Homo sapiens: one gene and its partners. The protein of the gene in region 4 purifies or fractionates together with the protein of the main gene of each other region. This does not show direct contact. Each region holds a gene or a part of one and is shown on either strand. Other genes may lie near its edges.

Region 1 (3,500 bases), on a different chromosome or scaffold from region 4:
AGTAGCTGGGACTACAGGCCCCCGCCACCATGCCCGGCTAATTTTTTGTAGTTTTAGTAGAGATGGGGTTTCAGCTTGTTAGCCAGGTGGTCTCGATCTCCTGACCTCGTCATCTGCCCGCCTCGGTCTCCTGAACTGCTGGGATTACAGGCGTGAGCCACTGCGCCTGGCCACTAAAGTGTGTATTATAAAAACAATACAGCAAACACAATTTAGAAAGTTAAACTTTTTTTTTTTTTTTTTTTTTTTTTAGTAGAGACGTGGTCTTGCTATGTTGCCCAGGCTGGTTTTGAACTTCTGAGCTCAAGCAATCTGCCTGCCTTGGCCTCCCAAAGTGCTAGGATTACAGGTGTGAGCCACCACACCCAGCCTAAACTTTTGTTTTGTTTTGTTTTTTGAGACGGAATCTTGCTCTGTTGCCCAGGCTGGAGTGCATTGGCGCAGTCTTGGCTCATTGCAACCTCTGCCTCCTTGGTTCAAGTGATTCTCCTGCCTGAGCCTCCCGAGTAGCTGGGATTACAGGTGCCTGCTACCACTCCTGGCTAATTTTTTTTGTATTTTTAGTCCCGAGTAGCTGGGATTACAGGTGTCTGCCACCACGCCTGGCTAATTTTTTTCTATTTTTGGTAGGGATGGGGTTTCACCATGTTGGCCAGGCTCGTCTCAAACTCCTGATCTCGTGATCCCCCCACCTTGGCCTCCCAAAGTGCTGGGATTACCGGTGTGAGCCACCACACCTGGCCCTAGACTAAATGTCTTGCCAATTGTGACACAAATATTTTTATGCTAAGGGTGAAGTTTATTGTTAATTTAAGTCCACATTTGTAATTTTTGCTGAGAATAAAAACAAAGAGGCCTAAACCCAAAGCCTTCTTTGGGTTTAGAGAAGGTTTCCTTGCAGGAGTGTCAGTTTTAGCTGAAGATGTGAAGAATCAGGAGGAATTAGCTCAGGAGAGACTAGGGACAGGCATTCTAGTGCAGGGAAACATGGTGAAGGCTGTAAGGTGGGAAGGAGCAGGGTAAATTCCTGGTATGGCAAGAGTACCAGTGTGCCTGCACACAAGAGCGTGATGGAGAGAAGGGGCAAGATACGGCTAGAGAGGTACACAGAAGCTTGGTCGCTGCGGGCCTGCTTAGATTTTTGCACTCTGCTCTGAGAACAGTTGGCCGTAACTGAAGGGTTTCCACCAAACAGAATGACGTGAGATTTATACATACAGTGAAATTCACCCTCTAAGTGGCCAGCTCAATGAGTTTTAACAAATGTGTGCACCTTGGGGGGGTGCAGTGGCATACACCTGTAATCTCAGCTACTTGGGAAGCTGAGGTAGGAGGATTACATGAGCCCAGGAGTTCAAGAGCAGCCTGTGCAACATAGTAAAACACCATCTTTAAATAAATAAATAGATAGATTAGATAGGTAGATAGATTGATTTTAAAAACCAAAGAACAAATGTATACACCTATGCACCGTTCACCACTGTCAGGAAAATACAACATTTTTATCATCCCCCAGAAGTTCCCTTCTGCCTTTTTGTAGTCATTCCCCACCTGCCCTTGCTCCAGACAGCCGATCATCTTCCTATTACTGCAGATTAGTTTTGCCTATTCCGGAAAGTCATATAAATGCAGTCTTTGATGTCTGGCTTCTTTCAGCGTAGTATCTGGGGTTTATCTATGTTGTTGGTCATGTCAGCCATTCTTCTTTTCTATTGTTGAGTAGTGTTCAATTGTATGGAAATGCCAAATTTTGTTTACCCATTCATCTATTGGTGGAAATTTGTGTTGTTTCCAGTTTTAGGCTATTAGGAATAAAGTTAAGAGCATCTGTAAGCCTTTGTGTGGACGTGTTTTCCTTACTCTTGCGTAAATACCTAGGAAAACAGCCACTGTGTTGTATAATAACTGAGTGTTTAACTTTTAAGAAACTACCAAACTTTTCCAAAGCGGGTACATTTTCACTTCTACCATCAATGTACAAAGATTCTAATTGTTCTACACCTTCCTCAGTATTTGATATTGTCAGTCTTTATAATTCTAGCTGTACCAGTGAGTATACAGTGATCTCTCTTTGTGGTTTAATTTGCATTTCTCTAGTGACTAATGAAGTCGGTCATTTTTTATTTTTTGAGACGGAGTCTCGCTCTGTCACCCAGGCTGGAGTGCACCTCGGCTCACTGCACCTCCGCCTTCTGGGTTCAAGCAATTCTCCTGCCTCAGCCTCCCGAGTAGCCGGGACTATAGGCACACACCACCATGCCTGGCTAATTTTTGCATCTTTAGTAGAGACGGGTTTTCACCATGTTGGCCAGGCTGGTCTCAAACTCCTGATCTCAAGTGATCTGCCTGCCCCAGCCTCCCAGAGTGCTGGGATACAGGCATGAGCCATCACACCCAGCCAAAGCTGGGCATTTTTTAATGTGCTTATTGGACATTGGTATATCTTCTGTAGTAAGGTATTCAAATCTTTTGCCCCTTTTTATAGGAGTGTTGGCTTTACAGAATTGTAAGGTTTTTTAAAAATATATTTCATTTTAAGTGAGTTTTAGATTTTGACGCTATGCTTCACTTTGAATCTTTGTGTATGGTGTGAAAAGACCTGGTTTGTTTTTGTCTTTTTTTTTTCCTATGTGGCTGTTCATTTACTTCTGCACTGTTTGTTGAAAAGACTGTCCTTTCCCCACTAGACTACCTTGGCACCTCGGGTGGAAATCAGTTGTCCATATAATTGTAGGTCTGCCTCTGGGCTCTGTATCCTTTCACCAGTGCCTGAAGACCAAATATCTTGATTACTGCAGCTTTGAGTAGGCTTGAAATCTAGTCACATGAGTCCTCCAGCTTTGCTCTTCTTTTTCAGAATGACTTTGGCTACATCCTTTGCATCTTCATATACATTTTAGAATCTGCTTGGGTTTTTTTTTTTTTTTTTTTTGAGACAGTGTCTCACTCTGTTGCCCAGGCTGGAGTGCAGTGGTGCAATCTTGGCCCACTGCAGCCTCGACCTCCCTGGGCTCAGGTGATCCTCTCACCTCAACCTCCCGAGTAGCTGGGACTACAGATGCGAACCACTATGCCCAGCTAATTTTTGTATTTTTTATAGAGATGGGGTTTTGCCGTGTTGCCCAAGCTGGTCTCGAACTCCTGGGCTCAAGTGATTTGCCTGCCTCAGCCTCCCTAAGTGCTGGGATTACAGGCGTGAGCCACCACACTCGGTGAATCTGCTTGTTTTTTCACACAACAAAACCTACTGAGATTTTGATTGAGATAGATTTTGTGTGTGTGTAAAAATGTGCTGTTTTTATGGTTAATGAAATGACAGTGGTGAGACTGATACAGAAAGACCCGTTAAGGAGACCTGACAAACATCCAAATGACAGAGGGTAGTAGCATCAATGAGGGCGGCTGAGTAGAAAATAAGTGGGTGGATTTGAGAGAGATTGAAAAAGTGAGCCAAAGCTGATTGCTGATCTTTAACTGGTGGCTACCTTAGAACCATAGTC
Region 2 (3,500 bases), on a different chromosome or scaffold from region 4:
TCTCAAGAGAAAAAAAAAAAAAAAAAGCCTCCAGGGTGCTGCCCTTTCCTGGGGCATTTCCCCTCCCCCAACTTCTTCCTTTGGCTAATGCTACAAGGGTCAGACGACATGCCCTTCCACAAAGAGGCTCTCCTGACCCCGCAGACCAGTTCCCCCACTATACACTTTCATGGCATCTGGGGCTCCTTCTTCCCAGGCATTTGCTGTAATTTTTCCTTATATGGTTACATTGATATTTTTGTGCTCAAACTGTGCAGGAAGTAGCAGTTTCCTTCTGGGAGAGGAGCTCAGACTAGATCAGAAAGGGCTGAAACCTGTAGTTTTGTTAACTGACATTTCCTCAGATTCTAACACATTGCCTGGCACACAGCAGGCACTCAAATATCTGACAAAGAAATAAATGTTGGGGGTTTGTGATATCTTCCCCCATTCCTGCAATGGTTCTGAAAGGGAAGAAGGGTCATTCCTCTGGCAACAAACCATGACGTTGTTTTGTGGCACGTCCTTTAACATCTGGGTTTTTTTTACTTTTTAATGTTTTAATTTTTATTTGTTTAGAGACAGAGTCTTGCTGTGTCACCTAGGCTGGAGTGCAGTGGTGTGATCATAGCTCACTGTAGCCTTTAACTCTTAGGCTCAAGCGATCCTCCTGCCTTGGCCTCCTGACAGCTGTGACTACAAGTGTGCCCCACTGCACCTGGCTTGTTTTCATGTTTATATGTGAGGTTACTCTCATAGAGGTGATAGTGCCCCTTCTCCAACACCAACCTGTGACAGAATATGTCACCCTGTGAAGCTGAATCCACAGGATGGTGAATAAACAGATGGGCTCAGTGCTCTGCCAGGGCAACCCTCCCTCCAAGAGGGCTTGGGGGTGCAGGGCTGACAATTCTGCTGGGTTTTCAATAACTGGGGGCTTTCTGAATCCCCTCGGGAGACTGCAGCCTCTCGTTGCAACTCAGGTCCGGCAGGCACATCCTCAAGGCGGGGTGGCCTCAGCAGCAGCTGTGACCTCCTGTCGGAGGTGATGTGTGAGAAGGGGTGGGCTGCCCGAGCCTGTTTCTTTGTTTCTTTCTTTTTTCTTTTTTTTTTTTTGTGAGACAGAGTCTCGCTCTGTCACCCAGGCTGGAGTACAGTGGCGCGATCTCAGCTCACTGCAACCTCCACTTCCTGGGCTCAAGAGATTCTCCTGCCTCAGCCTCCCGAGTAGCTGGGATTACAGACACGTGCCACCACACCCGGCTAATTTTTGTATTTTTAGTAGAGATGGGGTTTCACCATGTTGGCCAGGCTGGTCTGGAACTAAGTCTGTTTCTATGTGTGACAAACAATTAAACAGCATAGGCCGGGCGTGGTGGCTCACTCCTGTAATCCCAGCACTGTGGGAGGCTGAGGTGGGTGGATCACCTGAGGTCAGGAGTTCAAGACCAGTCTGGCCAACATGGAGAAACCCTGTCTCTACTAAAAATACAAAAATAAGCCGGGCATGGTGGCAGGTGCCTGTAGTCCCAGCTACTTGGGAGGCTGAGCTGGGAGAATCACTTAAATCCGGGAGGTGGAGGTTGCAGTGAGCAGAGACGGTGCCACTGCACTCCAGCCTGGGCGACAGAGCGAGACTCCATCTCAAAAAAACAAACAAACAAAAAACAATTAAATAGCACTTACCATGTCCTAGACCCTGAGGATGAGTTCATTTCATCTTCATATTAGGCCAGTGATATAAGTTCTAGTATTATCTCCATTTCACAGATAAGGAATCTGAGGCACAGAACTAAGTAACCTGTCCAAAGTCTCACAGCTAATAAGTAGCAGAGCCTGGATTTGAACTCAAATAGCTGAGTTACCAAATCCCTGTTCTTAGCCCTTATGCTTTGGTGCCTATAAAAATAAAAAGTTGGCTGGGCACAGTGGTTCACACCTGTAGCCCAGCACTTTGGGAGGCCAAAGTGAGAGGATCACTAGTGAGACCCCATCTCTACAAAATTAAAAATTTTTTATTTTTTAATTTAATTTAATTTTGTTATTATTATTTTTTTATTTTTGAGAGGGAGTCTCTGTTGCTCAGGCTGGAGTGCAGTGGCGCAATCTTGGCTCACTGCAACCTCTGCCTCCCAGGCTCAAGCAATTCTCCCGTCTCAGCCTCCCAAGTAGCTGGGATTACAGGCACCCGGCACCACACTTGGTTAACCATGTTGGCCAGGTTGGTCTCAAACTCCTGACCTCAGGTGATCTACCTGCCTCGCCTCTCAAAGTGCTGGGATTACAGGCGTGAGCCACTGCACCCGGCTACAAAATTAAAATTTTAAAAATTAGCTGGGGATGGTGGCACATGCCTGAGGTCCCAGCTACTCAGTGAAGTTGAGGTGGGAGGATTGCTTGAGCCCAGAAGGTCGAAGCTGCAGTGAGCTATGATTGCACCACTGCACTCTAGGCCTGGGCAACAGAGTAAGACTCTGTCTCAAAAAATAAAAATAAAAATACATTTAAATTTTTAAAAAGTGTTGAAATTCTGCCAGCACTAACCAGCACTCTGCCTCCTCAAAATGCGTTGCTGAAACATTCCTAGAGAAAACAAAGGTTACCTAGCAAGGTCCCACAGCTCGACAGACATATCCGTAATGCACCAGTATAGTTTGGCAGAAAGAGCACAGGATTCAGAATCACAAAGCCCTGGGCTTTTAAACTTACTATTTGAGTGATCTTGGACAAGTTACTTTACCTCTCTGAGCCTCAGTTTATTCATCTATAAAAGGGATCATAATAGTATTTCCTTTCCAGGAGTAATGTGAAAAACAAAAGGATGAACACTGATAACGCGCCTGGCACACATCACACAGAGTGGCTCCTTCCAGCCCTCAAAGACCTCGCTCAGCTGTGCCACTCACAGCACAGTCCTCAGGTCTGTAATTTGGTTTCTGGAGTGGACCTGCCCTCATGATGACTCCCCTAAGCCAATTACCAATGCCATTTATCTTCCTAGTATAAATGAATAAAATGGCATCTGCTTTATAAACCCGTCTCTGGTGATTTAGTTAGGATGAGTCATCACTCTCAGAGCCTAATCACCTCTGGAGGAGCAGACACAATCGAGTTTCTGGACCTGCAAAGCAGAGGATAGGCCTGCCTCCTAGGAGGAAAGACACAAAAAGGAAACCATTTTTAGGAATCCATGTAGCATTATTATTAAAGTCCCCACGTCCCCAGGTTCCCTTCCCCAGCCACCAAGCCTTCCCCAGCCTTGTGGCTTCTCTCTCTGCAATCCCACTAAAAGCCAAAATGCTCAGAGCTGAAACCAGATCCAGGGAGAAGATTCATACCTTTGCAGGAAGCAGCAGTTTCCTGCTGGGAGAGGAGCAAGGGGTGAACAGGGAACCATGTGGGGGCGTGGGCGGCTTGGGGTGCTGGGGAGGGAAGGAGCAGGTTGGGGGGTTACCTTGATCGGGATGTTACCTTGATCAGGTTGAAGAGCAGAGGCAGAGCCCGCAGAGGCAGCAGCTTGG
Region 3 (3,500 bases), on a different chromosome or scaffold from region 4:
CAGGCATGAGAAAGATACTTCTATAATACACCTGGATCTGTTGTGCTATGCCTTAGCACATGGCCCAGTACCAATTCTTAAATTGCTAAAAAATGTTCCGCTTTCATAACAAGCCACCAAATTTAATACAAGTGAGATAGAAGAGAGCGTGTAACGTGGCTCAGAGATGCCTAACATCCATTTTGTCCTGATATGGAAACCATAAAAACATTCTGAATGATGTCAACAAATCAAAAGATTTTCAGAGGATACTGAAAACTACTTGGCAGAAAGCCGCCTCAGCTTGACCCACTTATGAATTCTACAGAAAGAAAAGCCAGAGAGCAAATGCTTCACTCTTATCTTCATAAAGAAATAAATAACCAGAAACAAACATGAAGATTTTTTTTCCTAAAAAAACAAATTCCAGTACCACTACTACAATTAATATCCACTTGACCCAAAACTTCTGTACAACTCATTAACTGGTATTTTTAACAAAAAGCTTAAATCACCAAGGAAAGATTAAATTATCATCAACATGTTTAAAAAACTTAATATGCCTTGAGTTTTAAACTTTCATCAAGTCAGTTAAAATTAAAGTCTCATACTAAAGGAGTTAAACCTTCACTATTAAGAAAAGTCAACTGTACATAGTAATTTATTCTCCAAGACTTGTGGACAAGCAGAATTTTGCTTTTCAGTCAAATTCTGTGACAACTGATAATCCATAATTATAGTAATCAAAATAGTTAATAGGCTAGAACTCTCTTTTACTAAGCAAAAGAAGTGACAGCATTAAAAATAAATGATACAGTAAAAATAATGTCCCGCCTTCTACGGTGTCAGCTCACCTGAGGTATAAGTCTATCCAAGTACTCAACTCGATTGCCATGAGAAGGGTGTGTAGATAACCATTCTGGCATCTTGGGTTGGCCATGCAGGCTATCAACGAACTCCATTTGCTGCCAAAACACTGAACTGGCTCTTATGTCTGCACAAGCCTAAAACCAAAATTAGTAAAACCACACAATGAGCTCAGTTTTGAGGATTTTTTAAAAACTACTACTTTATTTTTTTTTAATTCTATTATAATTATACTTTAAGTTTTAGGGTACATGTGCACAACGTGCAGGTTTGTTACATACGTATACATGTGCCATGTTGGTGTGCTGTACCCATTAACTCGTCATTTAGCATTAGTTATATCTCCTAACAACTTTATGTCACTACATGCTTTAAAGTCATTTTCTATCATCACTTTAATAAAAGTAGAACATGCCCATTGCTTAGAAAAAGACCCACCTCAAACAACATGGTATCACAGTACTGAAATAACAGAATGCCTGCCCTTCCCATATACAACATTCACAATAACCCTGCTAACCAAAGATAGCCCACTATTTTCAGTATGATGGATATTAAGAACATGTATTAAGGGTAAAATCTTTTACACAAATTAAAAATTCTGTTTTCATAAAGTTTTAAAATATAATGTTATTAAACTGTATTAAAGAAACTTTACTTCTATGCCACTAGAACAATCAGAAAAAAACTTCAAATAAACATAAAGAGATGACATGTTTATTATGCACATCAATTTACCCAATTTTCTCAATGTATATGGACAATATATTTAATTCATATACCTTATAAAACACAATACCTTATAAAAGTACAATATAAAAGTACATTAGTACTTTTTAAAAGAATATATGTAGATCTTGTGTATGTACAATTCCATCATACACTCATATACATACTCATACGTATATACTTGTATATGCACAGAACATATCTGAGAAGCTATTTAAGAAGCTGTTAACTACCCTAAGAATGTACCTGAGGTATCTGATAGTGGAGAGGGAGCAACACTTTTATTTCTGAACTATATTAAAATACATTATTTTATAATTAAAATTATTTTTAAATCCTCCATAAGGTGGATTATTAACAAATATTTTATTAATTTGTTCAATTTATTCACATTTCTTAACTTATTCTTTCTATAATAAGTAACTGGAAAACAAGTGGTTATATTTCCCAATGATTTTATTTTTGATTAAAACTAAGAAAAAATATATATACTATACTGACTAAAATGTACTCTCAAAAAGATTTATAATAGTGTAATTGTGAAACCCCAAAAGGCAAATATATTAATAGAACACTGCATGCTAGTCAACAACCATGCTACATCATTTCTTAACAAATACCATTAAAGCATTTCCAAATGTTAGCAAAATAAAAAATTTTAAATTCAAGTAAATCTTATTCAATATTTAAAGAAATATAATTCCTTAAGACCTCTGAGTATTCTAAGTTGAAAAGAATTCAAGGTACTTTATACACTACTGCACAGATATGGATATACATGTTTATATGTATATAAACAGGAATATACAAGATAAATGTATATAACAAACATAAATATTATTCATGTTTATACACATATAAATACATATCTATATATGCAAGATGTGTGTGTGCTTATGTGTAAAATATGTATGTAACATATGTATCTATAAAGAAATAATTATTTGATGCTGAATTAGAAACACCCAGAGGACTATGCCCCTCAATAATAGGTAATCACATTCACAATAAAAATACAGGCTGAGATTAACAAGTATTCTTCTCAAATAATTCATAAAAATATAAAATGACTTGAAAGAATTCTAACACAAACAAAAAACCCCTCTGAAAACTGGAAGATAAACATTTGAATGGACTACAAATTCACGAATTATCTAACATGAAGTTTGTCTGCTACACAAACCAAAGGCATACTTATCTAATTTTTTTAGCCTAAAACTGTTAATCAAAAGACAAAATATTTCCCTATTCAATCTCTAAGTAACACAGCTGAAGGGAATCTTTAAAGCAATATTTGATATGCAGAAATAGAAAAAGAAATTAATTATCCCTACAGACTAGAAAGTATTCCAAGCTAAAAGTATTAAAAGGGGACTTGAGATATCTACTTTAATGTTAAGATAAGAGTGTTGAGTTTGTCTGTACTTCTCAAACCCAGTTCAAAGAGCCACTAAAGTCAGATAATTTTGTTTCCAAAATGAGTATTTTATTTACATTTTTCCAATTTAGGAAAAATAAGTAACAGGTTGACATCAGCAAGATGGAAGAATAGGACGCCCTAAACCCTCCTTCCCCACATGAACACACTGATTCAACGATAATATACGAATTCCCTTTGTGAGAAATCCTGAAACTAGGTGCAATGCTTCTGCACCTGCACAAGTACGAAATGAACAACATCAAACCTGGTAGAAGACTGGAGACACCCTCTTGCCATAATCTGCGAGAGCAATTATGTACCCCCAATACAGCACCATATGATCATAAGAACACCTGCAGCTCCCCACCACTCCTTGGGGAAGGAAAAACTTGGCTTGTGTATCTAACATTCCAACTTTTCTAAGAGCTGCCCTAGGAACTGGCTTCTGTCTTGCCAGCCTTGTAGCACTGATGGAATCTAAAACGCCCTAGATATCTAGGGGCCA
Region 4 (3,485 bases):
TCACCCATCCCCTCTAGCCAACTTAATTCCTCCCTCAGGCCCTTTTTACTTCCTGTCCTCTCTGCCTAGAATGTGTTTCCTCTCACTGTGGCTCGCTTCCTCACTTCTTTCAAAATGTTCCAAATACTATCTCAGAGACCTTTCCTGACCCCAACCATACTACCTAAGATAGCAACACTATTCCCCCGTTCTGCTGTAGTTTTATTTATAGCATTAAATACCTGAAATTACATTATGCATATATTTCCTTTTCTGTCACTTACACCAAGATGAAAATTCCCTGAGGGCAGGAATATTGTCTGGCTTATTTATTGCTATATCCTCAGTGCTTGGTGACGTACCTGCCAAAGAGCAGGAGTTGAGTGACTATTTGTTGTTGAATGACTGAAATTGAGTTCTCTTCTGTCAGAACTCTTACCAGGCTTTGTGAGATATTCCTTACGAGTTCTTAATCTATAGCTGTAATTATTTAATGCATATTTATCTATCACACAAGCTTGTATGCTCTCAGAGGACAAGAATTATGTTTTATTCATTTGGGAGTACATAGGCGGTATTTAAACAATGGTGCTATCTTAAACACCAAATATCAACTGCAGTTCACTTTTTCCGTGTGGGGACTAATATCAAGATTTCATATGAATTATAGTATAATCCAGAAGTATGAAAAAATACATCATATTTAACTTATAAAGCATTCATCTGCATGTTATAAGATATTACAGTAAATACAATTAGGTACTTACCATTTTATCTTTACTTTAAAAACAATGCCTTTTCCAAAATATAAAAAAAAGACCTATTTTTAAAGAACTATTTAAAGATGGCTTTGAAAACAACACTTTTATTTACAACAAATAGATGGTAGTGCAACAGCACTCGTGGATGTTTACGATAAATAAAAATACTAGTATTCTGGCATCCTTTGGGTACAGGCCCTTTTATATTTATAGATGTCTACAATGACTCATAAAAGTAAAATCAATAAAGGCTATTAATTTGTATTTCAACCTGAATTTGAGAAACCAATGAAGATTAATCATTTATTTGGGATCTAGATCCATATATCTGAAAACTGAAGTATAAAGTTTCTCATTTCCATTTACCTTGTCAACAAACATATCCCAAACATTTCAGCATCTGTAAAAGGTGATCTATTTAGCATCTGTAATAAGTGATTTATAGTTATATATGCTAAATAAAGGTTGACACAGCTGGATCCTAGAAGCTCAGATTTTATAAATTTAAAATAGATTAAGTATTTATGCCAAAAAACAAGAACTGGATCTAGGATTTTATTTTAAATTATGGAAGTCTCTGGGGAAAAAAAATAGCAATGGAATGACAATAGATGTCAGATATTTCTCTGAGAAGTATATAGTTTCTCAATTTTCGCTAGGTAGTGCATCCCAACTGAATTAAAACTAAAGCATATTTACAGTGCATTTTTTCTCACTAAAATTTCCCAATTCTAAAATGGTCTGGCCAGGCGCAGTGGCTCACGCCTGTAATCCCAGCACTTTGGGAGGCCAAGGCAGGCGGATCACAAGGTCAGGAGATTGAGACCATCCTGGCTAACATGGTGAAACCCCATTTCTACTCAAAATATAAAAAAAAGTTAGCCAGGCGTGGTGGCAGGTGCCTGTAGTCCCAGCTACTCAGGAGGCTGAGGCAGGAGAATGGCGTGAACCCGGGAGGTGGAGGTTGCAGTGAGCTGAGATCACGCCACTGCACTCCAGCCTGGGCGACAAAGCAAGACTCCATCTCAAAAAATAAATAAATAAAAAAATAAAATAAAATGGTCTGGATTTGGTCAACACCTTATTCAGTAAATCCTTAATTTACCTTGAGACATACAAAGACATTCTTTTAAAGAGCTATTTTCTTGGTATTGCACAAAGGTTAATTTTAAAGCAATCCAGGCAAGTAAGCTCACAAAAAGAAGTACATTCATCTAATCCATTTAGCAAATGTTGCAAATCAGCTTCCACCAATAAAACGTAGAAATCTGTGAAACTCTATCCTTCGTGTCAGTTTTAACATTGTGTTGATGGCAGCCATTTCAGGCAGAGGTAGCCAAGTTCCATATATATGGGGAAGGCAAAAAGCAAGAAAAACATTGCAGGAGACTTAGCAGTTCTCTGGCTTCTAATGACTATAGAGCAATTTCGAATATGAGCCATGTTTCTATGCAGAATTCTTCTTTTATGCCTTAAACACAAAAGAGCTTGTTGCTGCCTTGGGCAGATATACTGGAATTGTCCTCTTTGAGCTTACTTTCTCTTTTCTCTAAGGTCAAGTAAAAAATGTGAGACGTTTTCATATACCACAAAGGTAATACAGCAGGCTGGAGTCACTCTAATCAAATTAGGAGCAATTCCCTTGTAAAATCCACCGACGCCTTCTTTCCTTTAGAGGGAAAAATAGATAATGCTTAATTTTGTATAGAGCTAGCTTGAAAACACGGAAGTTCTAACTGACACAAGGCATGGAGCAAGCAGCAGTCAAACCTTACTCTGATTTAAGTTCATGTTTTCAATGTCCTAAAGTAATGTAGTTTATAAGCCATCTGTAGGGATTTACATTCCTTTTATGGATGGACTGAGTAAGAGAGGGTAGGGACACCTCAAAACTGAACTAAAAAGTGCTTTCAATTAGCTATCTTTCAAATGCTTTTAAATGTATGTACAAGCAGGAGTTTTAATTGACCTAATGTAGGCATTAAAAAACCTCATAGCTTGGATAAATGCTAGCCAACATTAAATACAGCACATACAAATATAAAACTTTATTTCCTTAATGCCAATAATATGGAATACGGCCTAGAAATTTGTCACTTAGGTGCTCATTAAATATTTCTTGAATTGAATTAAATTTAAACATCCTAAATGTTCTCCTCTGTTCCTTTAGAATTAAAGGGAAATATGGTGATGTCTGCCTATAATAATTTAACTAGTCTCATACTGAAGAACAAACATCTCTTTCATATATGGAAACAAGTATTTGCAAAAGTTATGGTGCCAGTAGCAGGTGTGGAGCCTTCTTGAATGTATTAAGCTAGTCTTATGACTTCTTATATTCAATACCATTCAGATATTTTATAACACCTAAATTTTATTTTCCAAAACATTTTCACACATTTAATTTGATTCTTATAACAACCTATTAGTTAGAAAGTCTTACTTTACAAATGAAGAAATTAAGTCTCAGAGAGATTAAGGCCATGGTCACATACGTAATAACTGGGAAAGCAGGGACCACCAATCATGTTTTCACCACAGCAAACTGGCCTTTGCTATAAAACTAGTATCAACAGGATGGTCTAAGATATGCAAGGTACCTTGTCAAAGCAATTTTTGATATAGCACGTGCTCTCACCTCCATGTCTTTGTGATTACATCTATTACACCACTGTAAAACATGTGTTGATCCTGAAGACGAGCTCTTACGACTTGATATGGGTATGTTGCTGCGACAGCAAATAT
Region 5 (3,500 bases), about 66 Mb from region 4:
ACTGGGTACCTTACTGCCATCCCAAGGCATTTCCAAGGCTTCTACAGCAAAGATCTGCTCTTGTGTCAGCCTCTCAGACCCCCTACCCCCACCCCTCGAGGCAGACAGGGCACTGGCAGGACACTCACCGCATGCTGGAAATCCGCGGACATGCCCATGCTCAGCTCAACCTGGTCAGCAGGGATGTTCAGCTTTTTACACAGCTCCTCCCGGAGGGACAATAACAGCTGACAGAAAGAGATGACACCTATTTTACTCCTGCCTTCTCTAACGATGCCCAAAAGTGTCTGAATCTGAACTTCTCTGACAACGGTTATGTATTCCTTATGATTTCAAGGCCTGCCAAAATTGCCAGACGTTACTGAAAGGGTTTTTTGCAAACTATCCCACTTTCGAGAAAACTATTAGTCACTGGAGAGGAAGAAATCTCATATTCTCTAAAGACTATGTTTTAGCCAAGTTCAAGTTGAGTTGAAAAAGGTTTGTGGGGCTTTGGAAACCTGTTCTTCCCTTTTCCTTCTGAGAAGAGTTCAAAAGAGGGCTAGAACACTCAACAGGCAGTGTCTGGGATGACTCTGCAATCCCCACTGCAGCCAGCCCTGCAATAGCACTCCAGCACCCTGCTTCTTTAGCACACGAGCAATCTCCCCGACCCCCCAGTACCTGGAAGTCTGGATTTGGTCCTTGACTAAGATCATGCCCAAAGCTTCCTATGGTCATCAGCCCCACAAACTCCAGGTTAGGACACTTGGCGTTTATGTGCTCCACGATGGCTATGGTCTCTGAAGGTGGAAGGCCATGTTTACCTTCAAGAAAAGAAACAGAAAACAGGTATACTGCAAGGGTAAATGGCCAGAGGAAGGCTCCATTTTCCTCCCTTCCTTACGACAGAAGAGGTGACCCCCAACAAGAGAACCTCTTGAAAGAGCCTCAAGTCCTAAAGAGTAACTTTATACTTGGGGTTTTCTATGTTGCTCTGCTTCTGGTCAGGTTCTAAATTTCTCAAGAAAAGAACTATCAGTTGGATTCTCTTTCCTCCATCTCAGGATTTCAGCTGAAAACAGCTAGGAGACATGGAAAAGAAAAAATCTTGCTTTTTTGGGATACCAGGAAGATTTGCATTGCCAAAATGCCAGATGAACCTGAGAATTACTTTTCTAAATCAAGAATTTTTATAGTTTTATTAATTTAATGGAGTTGCAAAAAATTTAGTATAAAGTACATGTTAAATATTTTTGGCTATATATTAGCAAAGTTTAACTGAACTTTCTAATTAACAACTGGAAGAGAAATCTGCAGCAAGCAATTATTTGTTATACAGTTATAAGAGCTATTGATATTGTCTTGCCCCCATTTATTAGGCGGAGATACTAGTAACATTTACTTCAGTCTTTAAATAGGGCATATTATAGCTAATTATCAAGAAATGATACAATAAAGACTTGACCTATAGTTGATTTCAGATTTCTATTGATAATTGGGATTTAAACCCAGGTAGTCTGACTCTAGGACGTTATCTAGAAAACAGATGCCTCTACTGTGTTCCTGCATACTAAGATTTGGTGAATACTGGTGCTTTGATGGTTGCAATCAAATGCCTGATCTGTATACATTTATTCTTAACGAATAGCTAACAACATGTGTAGGGTTCTGTGCTAACAATGTTGCCTGGATTATCATATTCAGTCCTAACCACACCCTCTGAAGTAAGCATTCTCATGATACCATTGCCAAAAAAGGAAACTGAAGTACAGAGAGATTAGGTAACTTATCCAAGGTTACAATACTGGAAAGTAGTGTAGCTGAAACCCAAGGTCTGTCTGATTTCAAAGCCCATGCTTCTATTCACACTATGTTACACTGTTAATCCAAGCCCCATAAAGATATTCATTGACTGGTGCTCACCATAATTTTTTATTTATTTATTTTTTTTTGAGATGGAGTCTAACTCTGTCGCCCAGGCTGGAGTGCAGTGGCGCGATCTCGGATCACTGCAATATTCACCTCCTGGGTTCGAGGGATCCTCCTGCCTCAGCATCCCGAGCAGCTGGGGCTATGGGTGCACACCATCATGCCTGGCTAATTTTTGTATGTATGGTAGAGATGAAGTTTCATCATGTTGGCTAGGCTGGTATCGAATTTCTGACCTCAGGTGATCCACCTGCCTCAGCCTTCCCAAGTGCTGGGATTACAGGTGTAAGCCACCGCACCTGGCCCACTCACAGTAATTATCTTCCATTCTCTCCCAATGCAACATCAAGTAATTTTTTTAAGATCTAAGAGTATTTATATAATCTTAGGTCTTAAAAATTTAAAATACTCCTTGTAGGAGTGATGGTGACCTTTGGGGGTTTCCAGATGAAAGACACAATCCCAGGCCGGGTGCAGTGGCTCATGTCTTTAATCTCAGCACTTTGGGAGGCTGAGGTGGGTGGATCACCTGAGGTCAAGAGTTCAAGACCAGCCTGACCAATATGGCGAAACTCCGTCTCTACTAAAAATACAAATATTAGCTGGGCGTGGTAGCGCGTGCCTGTAATCCCAGCTACTCGGGAGGCTGAGGCAGGAGAATCGCTTCAACCCAGGAGGCGGAGGTTGCAGTGAGCTGAGATCGTGCCACTGCACTCCAGCCTGGCGACAGAGTGAGGCTCTGTCTCAAAAAAAAAAAAAAAAAAGGCTGAGTGTGGTGGCTCACGCCTGTAATCCCAGCACTTTGGGAGGCCGAGATGGGTGGATCACTTGAGAGGTCATGAGCTCGAGAGCAGTCTGGCCAATATGGTGAAACCCCATCGCTATTACAAATACAAAAATTAGCCAGGCGTGGTGGTGCACGCCTGTAGTCCCAGCTACTTGGGAGGCTGAGGTGGGAGAATTGCTTCAACCCGGGAGGCGGAGGTTGCAGTGAGCCGAGATCGCACCATTGCACTCCAGCCTGGGCGACATAGCAAGACTCCATCTCAAAAAAAAAACAAAAATACAAAACGAAGTCACAATCCCCTTCTTGAACTCCCCATCCATTCTTCTTCCCCTAAAATTAAGATATAATGAACCATGATGTAGTAAAGAATGATACATAGACTGCTTTGCATGCCATTATGCTACCTAGATCACACATAAAACAGCCAACTTAGAGGCCTGTGATCCTGTGATTTGTTTCTATAACCTTATCCATCAGACACTTGGGCCCACCCATTCTCCCTAAGCTTCAACCATCCTAAAGGAAGAAAAATCTACAATTCAGGTCTGGTTACTTACTCTCTTCTCCGCTGGTGTTAATCTGGACCATAACCTTTAACCTTTCAGGAGAACCTTTTCTCTGCCAGGAACTGTTCACTTTGTCTGCCAACTTCACAGAATCCACTGTTTCCAGCATGAAGAGATTGGGGACAGCTGTAATGAGACAGAGGCAAAGTAGTATTCCTTATTTGCTCTATTGCAGCAAGTAACATGCAACAAATCTCTGACTTGTTAGAGGAAAAAATATGCCAGGAAAAGAAAAA
Region 6 (3,500 bases), on a different chromosome or scaffold from region 4:
TTCCAGCCCAATTTTCCAGATGACAGTTCTCTACAAGAACTGATGTTTTAAATTACTGCCATAAGGGACTACAGGATCTTAAATCATTGATGAAAATATAACTCTTTTCTCTATGCTCTAGGTCATAATGTAGGGAAAGTGCCTTGATACACTTCAGAGAACTAAAAGGATGTTCTTGTTAGCCAAATAATTCAATTAACTGGAACCAGCATTATGGTGGAGCTTTTAGTGCTAAAAAGAAGTACTTCAGAGCTATTATTTACTGTAGGCATACACATACCAAGCATCATACTAAGTGCTTTACAAGCATTTTCCCATTTAATACTCAAATTCTGTGAGAAAATTAGGGCTCTTGAGGCAAGTGACGGAGCAGGAATCTCAACTAGGCCTGACTACAAAGCCCATGCTCTCAATCACTGACAAAAAAACAAGTAGAAACAATCTATCTGAGCAACAAATTATGTGACACTTCTATCAACAGACTATATTTCTGTTCATATATACATATAAACTCACATACCAAAATATTCTTCCAACATTTTAAATTAGAAAAATCAAATTAACAATGTATTTATTTCTTTTTGTGGGGTCAGGGAGACAGGGTCTTGCTCTGTTGCCCAGGCTGGAGTGCAGTGTCACAATCATAGTTCACTACAGCCTTGACCTCCTGGGCTCAAGCGATCCTCCCACCTAGCCTCCCAAGTAGCTGGGAACACAGGCACATGCTACCATGCCTAGCTAGTTTTTAAATTTTTTGTAGAGACAAAGTCTTGCTGTGTTGCCCAGGCTGGTCTTGAACTCCTGGGCTCAAGCAATCCTCCCTCAGCCTCCCAAGGTGCTGAGATTAAAGGTGTGAGCCACCACAATTTAGAATAGAAAATTCTTAGTCAATTAATCTAGAGTTTTATGTAAAGCAAAATACATACAAAAGCTTTCAACAGTTGTTCCATTAATTGTCAAATAGTTAATCTCCAAATATAATGTAGCTGAAGAGCACTTTTTAGAAAATGATTCCTATATTCATTTAAAGCCATGTTAGCTTGCTCCAGAAATACTGACCAATCACACTCTCTTGACTTGGCAGGCTCTCTTACTCCTCCTTACTCCTCCATGCCTTTGCATACACTGTTTGTCCTGCCCAGAATGCTTTCTCCAACTTGAACAGCTGGCAAAACACACTCTTCCTTCAAATCCCTCTAAGTATACTACCCTGTGAATTTCCCAAGCAGAGGCAGACTTAAGCTTCCTCTACACTGCTGCTGTCCCTTTTGAACCTCCATTATGTATGGTGGTTGCTAAAGTACACTGCAATGATCTGTTTATCCATCATTTTCCCACAAGACTGACAGCTGATCAAAGACAGAAACAATGCATTTTCATCTATATATTTCTCAGTCCCTAATGCAGAATACAGACCAACACACTTGGGGTTTATTACTTTACTTAACTAGTTAATATAAACCAACACATTATAAATATTTAGAATCTTTCCAGAGACCATTAATATGTATTATCTACATGAACTATCATAGCAGGCTCTCCTATAATTCTAGTTTTCAGACAGGCAGGATAGGGGCTGTTTTTTGAAGATATCCAATGAACAACTAAGCAGTGTACAAAGGATTGTGGTAGGTAATGTGGAAGACACAAAAATCAGGGGCTCCATCTCATGGGATTGCCATAAAGTGGAGGGCACAAATGTTTATAATTGTTTCAACATGTTGTTCAATAAGAACACTAGTAGAAATAAAAAGTGCTACAGAATGGAAGGGCTTTATGATTATGACTAAGAAGACTGAGGAAAGGCCTGACATTTAATGACAACATTCAGGTTGGGCCTTGACGGACAGAAAAGAACATTCTACATCAGGGAACAAAGAGCATGAGCAAAAAGGTTCAGAAATGTAACAAATGTACATTATACATTTTAAAGCTTCTAAATTTTACAGATACCGAAAGAAAGGGCATGGTGTGGAAGTCTTGTATTCACATATATGAAAATCACAAGAATTACAACAGCATCAAAGAAAACAAGTATCACATATATCCCTCCATTTTCTTCTCTTAGCTAACAAGTATTCTTGGGGACATCCTCAGCTGCTATCAGCCCATTAGATTAATTAACTCACTGACAAAGAGATCTAGCAATCACTAAAAGATACTAAATTTTAAGCCGGGCACAGTGGCTCAAGCCTGTAATCCCAGCTCTTTGGGAGGCCAAGGCGGGCAGATCACGAGGTCAGGAGATCGAGACCATCCTGGCTAACACGGTGAAACCCCGTCTCTACTAAAAAATACAAAAAATTAGCCGGGCATGGTGGCGGGCGCCTGTGGTCCCAGCTACTCGGGAGGCTGAGGCAGAAGAATGGCTTGAACCAGGGAGGCGGAGCTTGCAGTGAGCTGAGAATGCGCCACTGCACTCCAGCCTGGGCGACAGAGCGAGACTCCGTCTCAAAAAAAAAAAAAAAAAAAAAAGATACTAAATTTTAGGCTGGGTGCAGTGGTTCACATCTGTAATCCCAGCACTTTGGGAGGTCAAGGAGGGAGAACTGCTTGAGCCCACGAGGTTGAGGCTACAGTGAATCATGTTCACACCACTGCACTTCTGCCTGGGCAACAGAGTGAGACCCCATCTCCCCCCACCCCCACCCAAAAAAAAGATATTAAATTTTATTTCAAGTCTGGGCACGGTGGCTCACTCCTGTAATCCCAGCACTTTGGGAGGCTGAGGCAGGTAGATCACCCGAGGTCAGGTGTTTGAGACCAGCCTGACCAACATGGTGAAACCTCGTGTCTACTAAAAATACAAAAATTTGCCGGGCGTGCTGGCAGGAACCTGTAATCCCAGCTACTCAGAAGACTGAGGCAGGAGAATCGCTTGAACCCGGGAGGCAGAGGTTGCGGTGAGCCGACATTGTGCCACTGCACTCCAGCCTGGGCGACAGAATGAGACTCCATCACACACACACACAGAGACACACACAGAGACACACACACACACACACAATTTATTTCATACACTAACCACCAAATAGGCTTGATTTTTAAATGTATTCTAAGTAAATATATTTTAACACAACTAGAAATTTTATGTAATACTTTAAATAATATTAACAATAATAATAGCACCTGACACCTAGTCAGTGGCACATACGCTAAAAGTGGTTTCACATGTATTTACTCATTTAATCCTCACAATGACCATATGAGACAGGCAGGATTATTACTCCTATTTTGTAGATGAGGAAACTCAGTCATAGAAAAGTGAAGTAAGCTGTCCAAGCTGACAAAGTAAATGACAGAGCCAGATTCAGACTTCTGTCTGGCTGTAGAGTCTGGGCTCTTAGCCACTGTCTGCACCCATGCACGCACACACACACACACGTATGCACACACACCTTAATTTAAACAATAGTGTACATATAATTTTGTGCTTGGAAAAAAACCACAAATTTTCTTCATTATGTAACATTGACTTAAAAACTTAAAAAAAGTGGTGA
Region 7 (3,500 bases), on a different chromosome or scaffold from region 4:
TCATATCTTTTCAAACAATTTCTACCTAGTTCTCAACTCTAAACTAAATGAATCAATGTCAATGAAAGGTTCAAAATAAATTTCAATATACTTTGTAATGGAAAAGAATTGGTTACTATTCTTTGTACTTTTTTGATCTTTTTGTTATGTAGTTCTGAAAGTTTTAATCGATAAAATGAGACAATATAAATCAAACTACCAGATTTTTACAGTGAAACAAGGTAAATCATTTGACTTAAAATAATTTTTTATAAATACACCTAGATTTGATTTTTACACATAAAAACTTAAAGAAAAAATTGATATTGATACTCAATAACAACAACAACAACAAAAGAATATTCTGTCATTAATGAGAAACTAGACTTTTGATGGTATGTAGACTGACCCTAGGTAATATAAAATTGAAAAATAATGTAAAAAGTTCTTTAAAATCAACAATTTTCAGGATTTTATACCTATGTTTGCCATGAGACTTTTATATTGCATTATAAAAGTATCTAAAGGTTTCAGATTTCTATAATTTCAACTCAACAAGCTAATATAAGAAACTAAGATAAAATACGAAACATTGTGCAAATTTCTGAGGGATAAAATGATTACTAAGAGTAAGTCCCTTCCTTTAAAGCAGGGGTCCCCAACCCAGGCCACAGACAGGTACAGGTTTGTGGCCTGTTAGGAATCCAGCTACACAGCAGGAGGTGAGCAGCGGGTAAGCAATATGACTCCCTGAGCTCAGTCTCCTGTCAAATCAGCGGCAGCATCAGATTCTCACAGGAGGAAACCTACTGTGAATTGCTCATGGGAAGGATCTAGGTTGTGCACTCCTTATGAGAATCTAACTTTCGAGGGATCTAGATTGCATGCTCCTTATGAGAATCTAAATAGTGCCTGATGATCTGAGGTGGAACAGTTTCATCCTGGAACCATCCCCCTGTCCCTGGAAAAATTGTATTCTACAAAACCAGTCCCTGAGGCCGGGCACGAGTGACTCACATCTGTAATCCTAGCACTTTGGGAGGCCGAGGCAGGTGGATCACCTAAGGTCGGGAGTTTGAGACCAGCCTGACCAACAAGGAGAAACCCTGGCTCTACTAAAAACACAAAGTTAGCCAGGCGTGGTGGCACATGCCTGTAATCCCAGCTACTCGGGAGGCTGAGACAGGAGAATCGCTTGAACCCGGGAAGCGGAGGTTGCAGTGAGCCGAGATCGTGCCACTGCACTCCAGCCTGGCAACAGAGCAAGACTCCACCTCAAAAAAAAAAAAAAAAACACGCCGGTCCCTGGTGCCAAAAAGGTTGGGAACTGCTGTTTTAAAGGACTTAGTGATTTAACTTTTTGTTCAGATAGGAAATAGATAAAATGATAATATTCTAGAAATCACATTTTAATTATTTGGAAGCATCTGGAATATATGTATATGTATATTCACAAAATTCCTTGCTTTTGTTTTAAATACAAAAATCAGTGGGCTTAAAGGCAAGGGCAAGCCTGTCTTCTCCACATTCACCACTTTAAATAGCTAACATTTAATTTCTTTGGAATGGAAGTTCTTAAATTTTTTTTATTATACTTTAAGTTTTAGGGTACATGTGCACAACATGCAGGTTTGTTACATATGTATACATGTGCCATGTTGGTGTGCTACACCCATTAACTCATCATTTAGCGTTAGGTATATGCTTATCATCACTGGCCATCAGAGAAATGCAAATCAAAACCACAGTGAGATACCATCTCACACCAGTTAGAATGGCGATCATTAAAAAGTCAGGAAACAACAGGTGCTGGAGAGGTTGTGGAGAAATAGGAACACTTTTACACTGTTGGTGGGACTGTAAACTAGTTCAACCATTGTAGAAGTCAGTGTGGTGATTCCTCAGGGATCTAGAACTAGAAATACCATTTGACCCAGCCATCCCATTACTGGGTATATACCCAAAGGATTATAAATCATGCTGCTATAAAGACACATGCACATGTATGTTTATTGCGGCACTATTCGCAATAGCAAAGACTTGGAACCAACCCAAATGTCCAACAGTGATAGACTGGATTAAGAAAATGTGGCACATATACACATGGAATACTATGCAGCCATAAAAAAGGATGAGTTCATGTCCTTTGTAGGGACAGGGATGAAGCTGGAAACTATCATTCTCAGCAAACTATCACAAGGACAAAAAACCAAACACCACATGTTCTTACTCATAGGTGGGAATTGAACAATGAGAACACATGGACACAGGAAGGGGAACATCACACACCAGGGACTGTTGTGGGGTGGGGGGAGGGGGGAGGGATAGCATTAGGAGATATACCTAATGCTAAATGAAGAGTTAATGGGAAGTTCTTAAATTTAGAGCCATAGATGGGCTTCAGCGGTTCAATCCATGAGACCCCTAAAATTAAAATGCTAATCACTCAGTGTAGTCTTAAGAACATTTTTTGGGAAAAGAGGCCCATATCTCTCAACAAATTTTTGAAAGTTTCCCTGGTGCCAAACAAAAAATAAAAAGCAAAAGGGGATGTGTGGGGTTGAACTCTTGAGAGTAACCTGAGTTGTATTTCATCTTTATTACAGGTAAAAATTAAGTTACAGGAGAACACTGTCTCTCTAAACCTTATCTTCTCTAGAGCAGAATATGTCTGCAAGTTGATCAAGTGCTACGTATTCATTCTAGCACCTTAAATACTATTCTTAGTAAATAATCTCTGGCCAGGTGAGGCGGCTCGCGCCCGTAATTCCAAAACTTTGGGAGGCTGGAGAGGGAGGATCACTTGAGCTCAGGAGTTCCAGACCAGCCTGACCAACACAACGAAACCCCGTCTCTACAAAAAATACAAAAATTAGTCAGGTGTGGTGGCATGCGCCTGGGGTCCCAGCTATTCAGGAGGCTAGGGCATGAGAACCATTTGAACCCAGGAGGCGGAGACTGCAGTGAGCTGAGATCGTACCACTCCACTCCAACCCGGGTGACAGAGTGAGATCCTATCTAAAAATAAACAAATAAATAAATAAATAATCTCTCTTATAAGCAGTTCCAGAACATGGACCCTAAGTGTTTATGCTCCTCTTTTCCCAAGTCTGAGAGAGCATAGAGGTACCTGTCACACCTGTAAACTATAATAAATAATCAAAAATACTGGCAACATTGTTAATATTAATTCAGGGCTCACTTTATTATCTGTAAAATACAAGTTTACAGAATATAAATGAGAGGGGTCACCTACCTCCATACACATCATCCATACAAATAATTTGGTCTCCTGCTTTTAAAAGATGGGTAATAGTTACAGTGGCTGCTAAACCTGAAGCAAAGGCCAAACCTAAAATAAAAATCAAGTTAGAGTAAGCTGAAAAGTCAGGCCTATAGGTTACAACACACCTCCAAGTATTTACCTGACTTACTTTAATGCAGATAGGAAGCCATCACTGCTGAGTTGCTAGAGGCCCCTGATTAATACCATTACAAAATCTCCTTTTCTATTTCAAGAA

Evidence for each region.
Region 1: the proteins of SLC25A32 (region 4) and LAP3 purify together in Homo sapiens (affinity purification with mass spectrometry; one large-scale study listed by BioGRID and IntAct). This does not show direct contact.
Region 2: the proteins of SLC25A32 (region 4) and NLRX1 purify together in Homo sapiens (affinity purification with mass spectrometry; one large-scale study listed by BioGRID and IntAct). This does not show direct contact.
Region 3: the proteins of SLC25A32 (region 4) and OMA1 purify together in Homo sapiens (affinity purification with mass spectrometry; one large-scale study listed by BioGRID and IntAct). This does not show direct contact.
Region 5: the proteins of SLC25A32 (region 4) and PLPBP purify together in Homo sapiens (affinity purification with mass spectrometry; 2 studies listed by BioGRID and IntAct, with this or other methods). This does not show direct contact.
Region 6: the proteins of SLC25A32 (region 4) and CBFB purify together in Homo sapiens (affinity purification with mass spectrometry; 2 studies listed by BioGRID and IntAct, with this or other methods). This does not show direct contact.
Region 7: the proteins of SLC25A32 (region 4) and CTH purify together in Homo sapiens (affinity purification with mass spectrometry; 3 studies listed by BioGRID and IntAct, with this or other methods). This does not show direct contact.

Annotation. Positions count from the first base shown.
Region 1 is NC_000004.12:17,590,698-17,594,197, forward strand, and holds part of LAP3 (cytosol aminopeptidase), read left to right. Parts: intron 1-3,500. UniProt on the Homo sapiens protein: Cytosolic metallopeptidase that catalyzes the removal of unsubstituted N-terminal hydrophobic amino acids from various peptides.
Region 2 is NC_000011.10:119,175,225-119,178,724, reverse strand, and holds part of NLRX1 (NLR family member X1 isoform 1 precursor), read right to left. Parts: coding exon 3,451-3,500; intron 1-3,450.
Region 3 is NC_000001.11:58,505,227-58,508,726, forward strand, and holds part of OMA1 (metalloendopeptidase OMA1, mitochondrial precursor), read right to left. Parts: intron 984-3,500; coding exon 834-983; intron 1-833. UniProt on the Homo sapiens protein: Metalloprotease that is part of the quality control system in the inner membrane of mitochondria. Activated in response to various mitochondrial stress, leading to the proteolytic cleavage of target proteins, such as OPA1, UQCC3 and DELE1.
Region 4 is NC_000008.11:103,398,138-103,401,622, forward strand, and holds the end of SLC25A32 (solute carrier family 25 member 32), read right to left. Parts: coding exon 3,379-3,485; intron 2,410-3,378; coding exon 2,274-2,409; 3' UTR 501-2,273; downstream 1-500. UniProt on the Homo sapiens protein: Facilitates flavin adenine dinucleotide (FAD) translocation across the mitochondrial inner membrane into the mitochondrial matrix where it acts as a redox cofactor to assist flavoenzyme activities in fundamental metabolic processes including fatty acid beta-oxidation, amino acid and choline metabolism as well as mitochondrial electron transportation.
Region 5 is NC_000008.11:37,772,645-37,776,144, reverse strand, and holds part of PLPBP (pyridoxal phosphate homeostasis protein), read right to left. Parts: intron 3,391-3,500; coding exon 3,256-3,390; intron 837-3,255; coding exon of another isoform or gene 807-836; coding exon 664-806; intron 228-663; coding exon 129-227; intron 1-128. UniProt on the Homo sapiens protein: Pyridoxal 5'-phosphate (PLP)-binding protein, which may be involved in intracellular homeostatic regulation of pyridoxal 5'-phosphate (PLP), the active form of vitamin B6.
Region 6 is NC_000016.10:67,084,649-67,088,148, reverse strand, and holds part of CBFB (core-binding factor subunit beta), read right to left. Parts: intron 1-3,500. UniProt on the Homo sapiens protein: Forms the heterodimeric complex core-binding factor (CBF) with RUNX family proteins (RUNX1, RUNX2, and RUNX3).
Region 7 is NC_000001.11:70,417,768-70,421,267, reverse strand, and holds part of CTH (cystathionine gamma-lyase), read right to left. Parts: intron 3,332-3,500; coding exon 3,236-3,331; intron 1-3,235. UniProt on the Homo sapiens protein: Catalyzes the last step in the trans-sulfuration pathway from L-methionine to L-cysteine in a pyridoxal-5'-phosphate (PLP)-dependent manner, which consists on cleaving the L,L-cystathionine molecule into L-cysteine, ammonia and 2-oxobutanoate.